Linked DNA regions of Homo sapiens. The protein of the gene in region 1 purifies or fractionates together with the protein of each later gene. This does not show direct contact. Each region holds a gene or a part of one and is shown on either strand. Other genes may lie near its edges.

What was found.
Region 2: the proteins of SLC25A33 (region 1) and FAM170A purify together in Homo sapiens (co-immunoprecipitation; one large-scale study listed by IntAct). This does not show direct contact.

The regions. Positions count from the first base shown.
Region 1 is NC_000001.11:9,580,650-9,584,464, forward strand, and holds part of SLC25A33 (solute carrier family 25 member 33), read left to right. Parts: intron 1-1,649; coding exon 1,650-1,852; 3' UTR 1,853-3,815. UniProt on the Homo sapiens protein: Mitochondrial transporter that imports/exports pyrimidine nucleotides into and from mitochondria. Selectively transports uridine, thymidine, guanosine, cytosine and inosine (deoxy)nucleoside di- and triphosphates by an antiport mechanism.
Region 2 is NC_000005.10:119,632,356-119,636,435, forward strand, and holds the end of FAM170A (protein FAM170A), read left to right. Parts: intron 1-392; coding exon 393-533; intron 534-1,604; coding exon 1,605-2,379; intron 2,380-2,672; coding exon 2,673-2,679; 3' UTR 2,680-2,731; intron 2,732-3,344; 3' UTR 3,345-3,467; downstream 3,468-4,080. UniProt on the Homo sapiens protein: Acts as a nuclear transcription factor that positively regulates the expression of heat shock genes. Binds to heat shock promoter elements (HSE).

The DNA.
Region 1 (3,815 bases):
GATTGAGACCAGCCTGGCCAACATGGTGAAACCCCGTCTCTACTAAAAATACAAAAATTAGCTGGGCGTGGTGGCGCACGCCTGTAGTCCCAGCTACTTGGGAAGCTGAGGCAGGAGAATCGCTTGAACCCGGGAGGTGGAGGTTGCAGTGAGCCGAGATCAAGCCACTGCACTCCACCCTGGCAACAGAGCGAGACTCTGTCTCAAAAAAAAAAAAATAATAATAATAATAATAATAATAATAATCATTCAGCCTCTATTTCTAATGGAGCCTTAAGGCTACTTTGGGTAAGTTTATTTTTTTGAGTTATAGAATTCTTGACCTACTGGCCTACTTATTTTAAAAAATGCTTAGTTTATTGTGCCATGAAAAACAGGTTTTATTTTCATAAGCCTTCTGTACTGTCAGCTATGGCAAATGCATACAGTCAACTCAGTAACAGGTGCTGAGTCCCCTTTGTGTCCTGGAGCACTAAGCTGACCCCAGAGGACATCTGAGGAAAGAGGTCAGTGATGCCTCCCAGGGTCTGAGGTCTGTGTGAGGGCAGGAGTGACGAATGTCCAACTCTAGGTGTCTGGGAAGGAGGCCCAGGTGGGCAAAGGCTGGCAAAGGAGAGGGTGGCTTTTGAGCTGGGCAGAGTAGAAAACGTTTCCAGGAGGAGGAGGAAACTGAAAAATATAAGAAAAGAATTCGTTGAAGGTATTGCCATACTTCATACAAATTAGCATTTGCTTAATTGGGAGTAGAAAACCATGAATTATTTTAACATTAAGTCTCATTGAAACTAAGCTTTTTTTAACCCCTTAAAAGTTATTTTGCTGTAATCCCAGCACTTTGGGAGGCCAAGATGGGCACATCACCTGAGATTAGGAGTTCGAAACCAGGCTGGCCAACATGGCGAAACCCCGTCTCTACTAAAAATACAAAAATTAGCTGGGTGTGGTGGCAGGTGCCTGTAATCCCAGCTACTCAGGAGGCTGAGGCAGGAGAATCACTTGAACCCAGAAGGCAGAGGTTGCAGTGAGCCAAGATCGTACCGACTGCACTCCAGCCTGAGTAATAGAGTGAGACTCTGCCTCAAAAAAAAAAAAAAAAAAGTTATTTTGTACTTTCGTGTATGTGTAAGTGTCCATAGTTGACCAAATCCTAGAGTTGGAAAAGGTTCTAAAAAGAACTTAATTTTTCATTGTCTCTCTAGGTTATGTGACTTTCCTGTCCAAATACAGCTGAGGTGGGAAATAGACACAGTTGTAACCTTGACAATTTTATTTTATTTATTTATTTTTTGAGACAGAGTCTTGCTTGCTCCGTGGCCCAGGCTGGAGTGTAGTGGCACGATCCCGACTCATTGCGACCTTCACCTCCCAGGTTCAAGCGATCCTCATTCCTCAGCCACTCTAGTAGTAGGCGTGCACCACCTTGCCTGGCTAATTTTTGTTTTTCAGTAGAGACGGGGTTTCACCATGTTGGCCAGGCTGGTCTCCAACTCCTGGCCTCAAGTGATCCACCCGCCTCGGCCTCCCAAAGTTCTGGGATTACAGGTGTGAGCCACCGCACCCGGCCTAACCTTGACAGTTTTAAAGTTGTGTGCTGTGGATTCGTTCCCCATTTAATATGTGGCGTAAAGTAGGTCTTTCTCTCTCTGCAGAAGTCATAAGGACGAGGCTCCGGGAAGAGGGCACCAAGTACAAGTCTTTTGTCCAGACGGCGCGCCTGGTGTTCCGGGAAGAAGGCTACCTTGCCTTTTATAGAGGACTGTTTGCCCAGCTTATCCGGCAGATCCCAAATACTGCCATTGTGTTGTCTACTTATGAGTTAATTGTGTACCTGTTAGAAGACCGTACTCAGTAACAGGCCGGAAAATTGTGCTCTAGAAGAATAAAACTGAAAAACTCTAGAGAATTTTTTTTCCCCATTGATGTTTAGAAAGTTTGAGACTGAAACAGGAAAGGCCATAAAATATCTGGTTCATATCACCTGTTGGACATTTCCTTTTGGATTCATGCTTTCTGGAAGGTTTAAATTCATTAACGTTAATAGTTAATTATAACTTTTTTTTTAACTTAAGAGGATTCAGGGTTAAGCACCAACTAAATTAAATCATGCTATTTAATTTAAGTATACATTTGGCTTGTGTCCTCTTTTATGCTCACTATACTATGAAGGACTTAAGTAATTCAGATAAACCTGCCCTAGAACTGCAGAGAAAAATGATAAAGTGAGAATACAACTTGTTTTATAATCTGACTTTAAGATCTTGCACTGCTAGACAGGGAAGAAGTGTCGCATTTTGGCTGGGCACTGTGGCTCACGCCCGTAATCCCAGCACTTTGGGAGGCCGAGGCAGATGGATCACGTGAAGTCAGGAGTTCCAGACCAGCCTGGCCAACATGGCGAAACCCTGTCTCTACTAAAAATACAAAAATTAGCCGGACGTGTGCCTGTAATCCCAGCTACTTGGGAGGCTGAGGCAGGAGAATCACTTGAAACCCAGGGGGCAGAGGTTGCAGCGAGCTGAGATCACGTCACTTCACTCCAGCCTGGTCGACAGAGTGAGACTCCATCTCAAAAAAAAAAAAATTGTGTCACATTTTGGTGGTGGTGTGTGGACCAGGACAAACTTCCCAGCAATTTTTCTTCTTTGTACATTTCCAATTACTTGCAGATTGATCATCTAAGCGTTCAGACTGCTGAGATGAATATATATAACTTTCTGAGACTCAATATTTTAAGCTATAAAAAACTTCCTGAAGTTATCCTTTTCTCCCTACTTTGAACCAAAGGCAAGAATTTTTAAAGAACTGTTTTATCAATGGCCTGGCTCCTGGATATAGTTCCGGAAGTTAAGACCAGTTGCCTTGTTAAGTGTGTTGACAGCACAGCTACCCTGTTTGGCTGTGAATCCAGAATGTGATGAAGAACAGTCATTCCCACTGAGGTCTTTAGCCCTGTTCTTGGACCTCTGCTCTTGCAGAAAAGGAGCACAACGTAGGACTATGGCTCACCCGTCAGAGAGCTCACATTCTGATAGAAAGCACTGGGATTGTTTAAATATCCTAGTTCAACATTAAAAAAAAAAAAAATTTAATCCCAGCACTTTGGGAGGCCAAGGCGGGCAGATCACGAGGTCAGGAGATCGAGACCATCCTGGCTAACACGGTGAAACCCCGTCTCTACTAAAAAAATACAAAAAAATTGGCCATGCGTGGTGGCGGGCACCCATAGTCCCAGCTACTCGGGAGGCTGAGGCAGGAGAATGGCGTGAACCTGGGAGGCGGAGCTTGCAGTGAGCTGAGATGGCGCCACTGCACTCCAGCCTGGGCCACAGAGTGCGACTCCATCTCAAAAAAAAAAAAAAAACCAGGATGTTACCCCCTTGGTTTTAAAGCAAATTTAATAAGGGAACAAAAAGATGATACTAAGAAGAAGGCAAGTAAAACCCCTAGTCTTCCATTAGCTCTTTCACTGGAATTTGAGTATATTGTACATGAAGGTTGGTTTTCAATTTGAACGTCTAGAAAGATACTCATTTCTAATACCTATGCACTGTAGTTTCAGGTTTACTTGCAGACACCCTGGTAGGGTTAAGAGGAGGATATTTCCAAGTTATTTTAAATTGAGTTTACTTTTAACTGGGGTTCTTGACTCTAGTGTAATTGCTCCAACAACTACGTAGAAGTCAAAATGAGTGACTTTAGTGAAGCTTCTGTACTTTACAATACATGACAGTAATGCTATTCCAGAAGTTTTGTTTTGTTTTGTTTTGAGATGGAGTCTCGCTCTGTCTCTCCCAGGCTGGAGTGCAGTGGCACAA
Region 2 (4,080 bases), on another chromosome or scaffold:
CCACACCATACAATCAGGAAAAATTACATATTGCATAATTTCAGGGTTGTAAACACAAAACTATGCACACAAACTCCACAGACACAGACACATGTTTCTACAATATACCCACACAAATCTACACATATCAAAGGCTATCTGGTATGTATCACTCTTACGCTTCAGACGTACTCATAGTCACCACACAGGCCTATGTTCCTATTGATACACTATCAAAATACCTGTTGACTGTAATTAAATACTGGAGTATCCACCAGAAGCCTGTCTCACAAACCATGTGTGTTCACTACACCTGACATAGGTCAGCCACTCAGTAAATATTTGTTGGATGGTAAATGATGCACAAACATTACCCATCCATCATATCTCTGTTCCCTTCATACCTTTCTCAGGAATGTCAAAGTCCCAAGAGGATGCCCTGCAGCCTGGATCCACTAGAGTGGCCAAAGGCTGGAGCCAAGGGGTGGGAGAAGTTACTTCTACCTCCGAATACTGCTCCTGCGTTTCTTCTTCACGCAAGCTCATCCACAGTGGTAAGGGTGCAGGGTTCCTTCGGCACGTGGCTCCTTGGCTGTGGGGTTCATTGGGCATGAAAATATTTGAGTGTGGGGCTCTGTGGGCATGAGACTCTTTGGTTGCAGTGCTGCTTGGGTGTAAGACTCTTTGGGAGTGGGGCTTTTTGGGTTTGGGGCTCCTTCGGTGTGACAGTCTTTGGGTGTGGGGCTCCTTGGATGTGACATTCTCTGGGTGTGAGGTTCCTTGAGCATGAGACTCTGGATGCAGGGCGCTATGGGTATGTGACTCTTTGGGTGCTGGACTCCTTAGGCATGGGATTGGGTGCAGGGCTCCTTGGGTAGGGGGCAGGAGGCCCATAGATCCAAGGATGAGGCTAAGAAGAAACCCAGGGCAGTTGGATATGATCAGAGCTCTGCAGAGGTGTCTGGGCAAGATGACAGAGCTGTTAGAAGAGCATGGATATAAGCTCAGTGTAGGAGAGCATGAGCCCTGGTGTGCAGTCAGGCAGTCAGGGAGCAGAGGCCAGAAAAGTCTGCTGTTGGGGTGTAGGGCCACAGGACCAGATTAAGCACTTTCATCGGAACTATTTGGGCTCTGCCTTTGCCTTCCAGAGAAAGACAGATTTCCTCAGCCCAGGCCTCCAGCACTGCAGCGGGACTCTAGCTCAGGCCCACACACCTCACACATACAGCCACACGCTCCACAGGTACACTTTCTGCACACACACCACCCAAATGCATGACCTGCAGTGCCATTCTCCCACACTACCTCCCACATTCCACAAATAACACATCAATGATGGCACCAACTCACATCCTCATAGCACACACATGCTGCCGACATTCCACATATGCTGCAGTCCTCACCACCATACTCCACACCCCTGTATATGGACACCCCACCAACATCCCTACACGCAAATGACACTAGAATCACTACCCCACAATATGAACAACAAATACCAAGCTCACTACACAGCTGCATCTCACCACAGTCCCTGTCTCCTGCACCACACATATTTAACTTACGTTCCCTCAGCTCCTAGCATGGCCCATGCATCTGCTCATGTTTCTAATTTCCTTTCCCAGGAATCCAGAGAATACATCGAGACAGCCCCCAGCCTCAATCACCCCTGGCCCAGGTTCAGGAACGAGGAGAGACTCCTCCCCGCTCACAACATGTCTCCTTGTCGTCCTATTCATCCTATAAGACTTGTGTGTCCTCTCTGTGTGTAAACAAAGAGGAAAGGGGCATGAAAATATACTACATGCAGGTACAAATGAACAAAGGTGTGGCTGTCTCCTGGGAGACAGAGGAAACTTTGGAGTCCTTAGAAAAGCAGCCAAGGATGGAAGAAGTGACCCTTTCTGAGGTTGTGAGGGTAGGTACTCCCCCCTCTGATGTGTCCACCAGAAACCTCCTGTCTGACAGTGAGCCCAGTGGGGAGGAGAAAGAGCATGAGGAAAGGACAGAATCAGACAGCCTGCCAGGCTCACCCACCGTTGAGGACACACCCAGAGCCAAGACTCCTGACTGGCTGGTGACCATGGAGAACGGCTTCAGGTGCATGGCCTGCTGCCGGGTGTTCACCACCATGGAAGCCCTCCAGGAGCATGTGCAGTTTGGGATCAGAGAGGGCTTCAGCTGCCACGTCTTTCATCTCACCATGGCTCAGCTGACAGGCAACATGGAATCAGAGAGCACCCAAGATGAGCAGGAGGAGGAAAATGGAAATGAGAAGGAGGAGGAAGAGAAACCAGAAGCAAAGGAGGAGGAGGGGCAGCCCACAGAAGAAGACCTTGGCCTGAGGAGATCCTGGAGCCAATGTCCAGGCTGTGTGTTTCATTCTCCAAAGGACAGGAAGTGAGCAAAGCCTGGGTTGTGGGTCTGCTGAGGGAGCAATGGCTTCCCCGAGCCAGTACTGTCTCCCCAGTTCAGGCTTAGGTCTCTGTAAGGAAGATTTGGGGGCTTTATTGGCTCAGGGAACAATGGAGGGGGACATAACTGGGATCCCTGCTTCTTGCCTAGGCATCTAATAAAGTCTCGATTGTAAGTCAGGATTTGTCTTGACCTTTCCAGCTCCTGCAGGAAATTCTGAGAATTTCAAAAGTCGCATTAACTAAGAAGTGTCTTTCTTTGGTTTGATTTTCACACAGCAGCTGAGACTTATGGGCCAGAAGATACTGGAAGATGGTGTGGCCTTCTCTTGCAAGAGGTAAGGAGTGAGACTTGCAGTTTTCTGAGGCTGTGTTGTGAGGGCCCAGAGGAATCCAAGGGAAGGAGCTGCAGGGATGCACTGGGTCACCTGGTGGCTCTGCAGCCACATCAACTTATCGTGCACCTGGTGCTTCTGGGGGAATTGTCCTCCATTTGCTTAGATGACAAGGTGAAGAGCATTGACTGGGAACTTTCTCAATGTCTGCATGATTGTCCTCAATTCTAAGAGGAGGTGCTGCAGCTCTTCTAGGCAGCGGAAGCTCAGTGTAACCTCAAGGGCCAGGATTGGCCTGAAAGGACAGGATGCCAGCAAGATCAGAGGTGTGGAGTCTGAGAGCCTTTGGCCTGAGCTGGGATCCCACCTGAGCCCATAGATATAGCCCTTGGGGAAAAGGGGAATTTGGAGAGGTAACAACATCATCCTGATGAGACACCAAGAGAACTGGAAATGTTTCAGAACCTTCATTTTGCTGCATTTGATCTGGAAATGAACTCACTGTGGGTTGCATGACTCTGAGCTTCAAAACAAAGGTGAAGGGTAACTGACTAGCAATGCTTGTATTGTTTCTTGCCTCTTCCTCTTCTGCCTCAATTGTTTTCTTCACTTCCAGGGAGAAGAAAGAGCCATGGAGATAGTAGCAGACAGGCTGCCCAAGGTATGAAGCAGATGAGGGACCAGCACTCAGTCTAACATGTAAACATCATACGTAATAAAGGTTGTGTTTCAAACCTTACCTGGATATATTATTTAATTAACAAATTAATCTACCTATCTATTCATCATTTTCTTTTTTTTTCCTTTTTCTTTTTCTTCTTCTTCTTCTTTTTTTTTTTTTGAGATGGAGTTTCATTTTTGTTGCCCAGGCTGGAGTGCGATGGCATGATCTCGGCTCACTGCAACCTCTGCCTCCTGAATTAAAGTGATTCTCCTGCCTCAGCCTCCCAAGTAGCTGGGATTACAGGCATGTGCCAGCACACACAGCTAATTTTGTATTTTTTTAGTAGAGATGAGGTTTCACCATGTTGGTCAGGCTGGTCTCGAACTCCTGGGCTCAAGTGTTCTACCCGCCTGGGCCTCCCAAAGTGCTGGGTTTGCAGGCGTGAGCCACGGCGCCCAGCCCTATTCATTATTTTCATCTATCTCTCCAGTGGTTTGTGAACGAAGTTTTACATCAGCACTAAAGATATCTACCAGCCTTTTCCAGAGGCAGCAATAGCCAAGCTCCTGGGTTTGATTAGACTTCTGTGTGACAATTTTTTCAAGGCTGGATATCACATTTCATATGAGACCATGACAAACTCCACTACATACCTATGTTTCCATCATCCCGCTTTATTAAGCTTAGC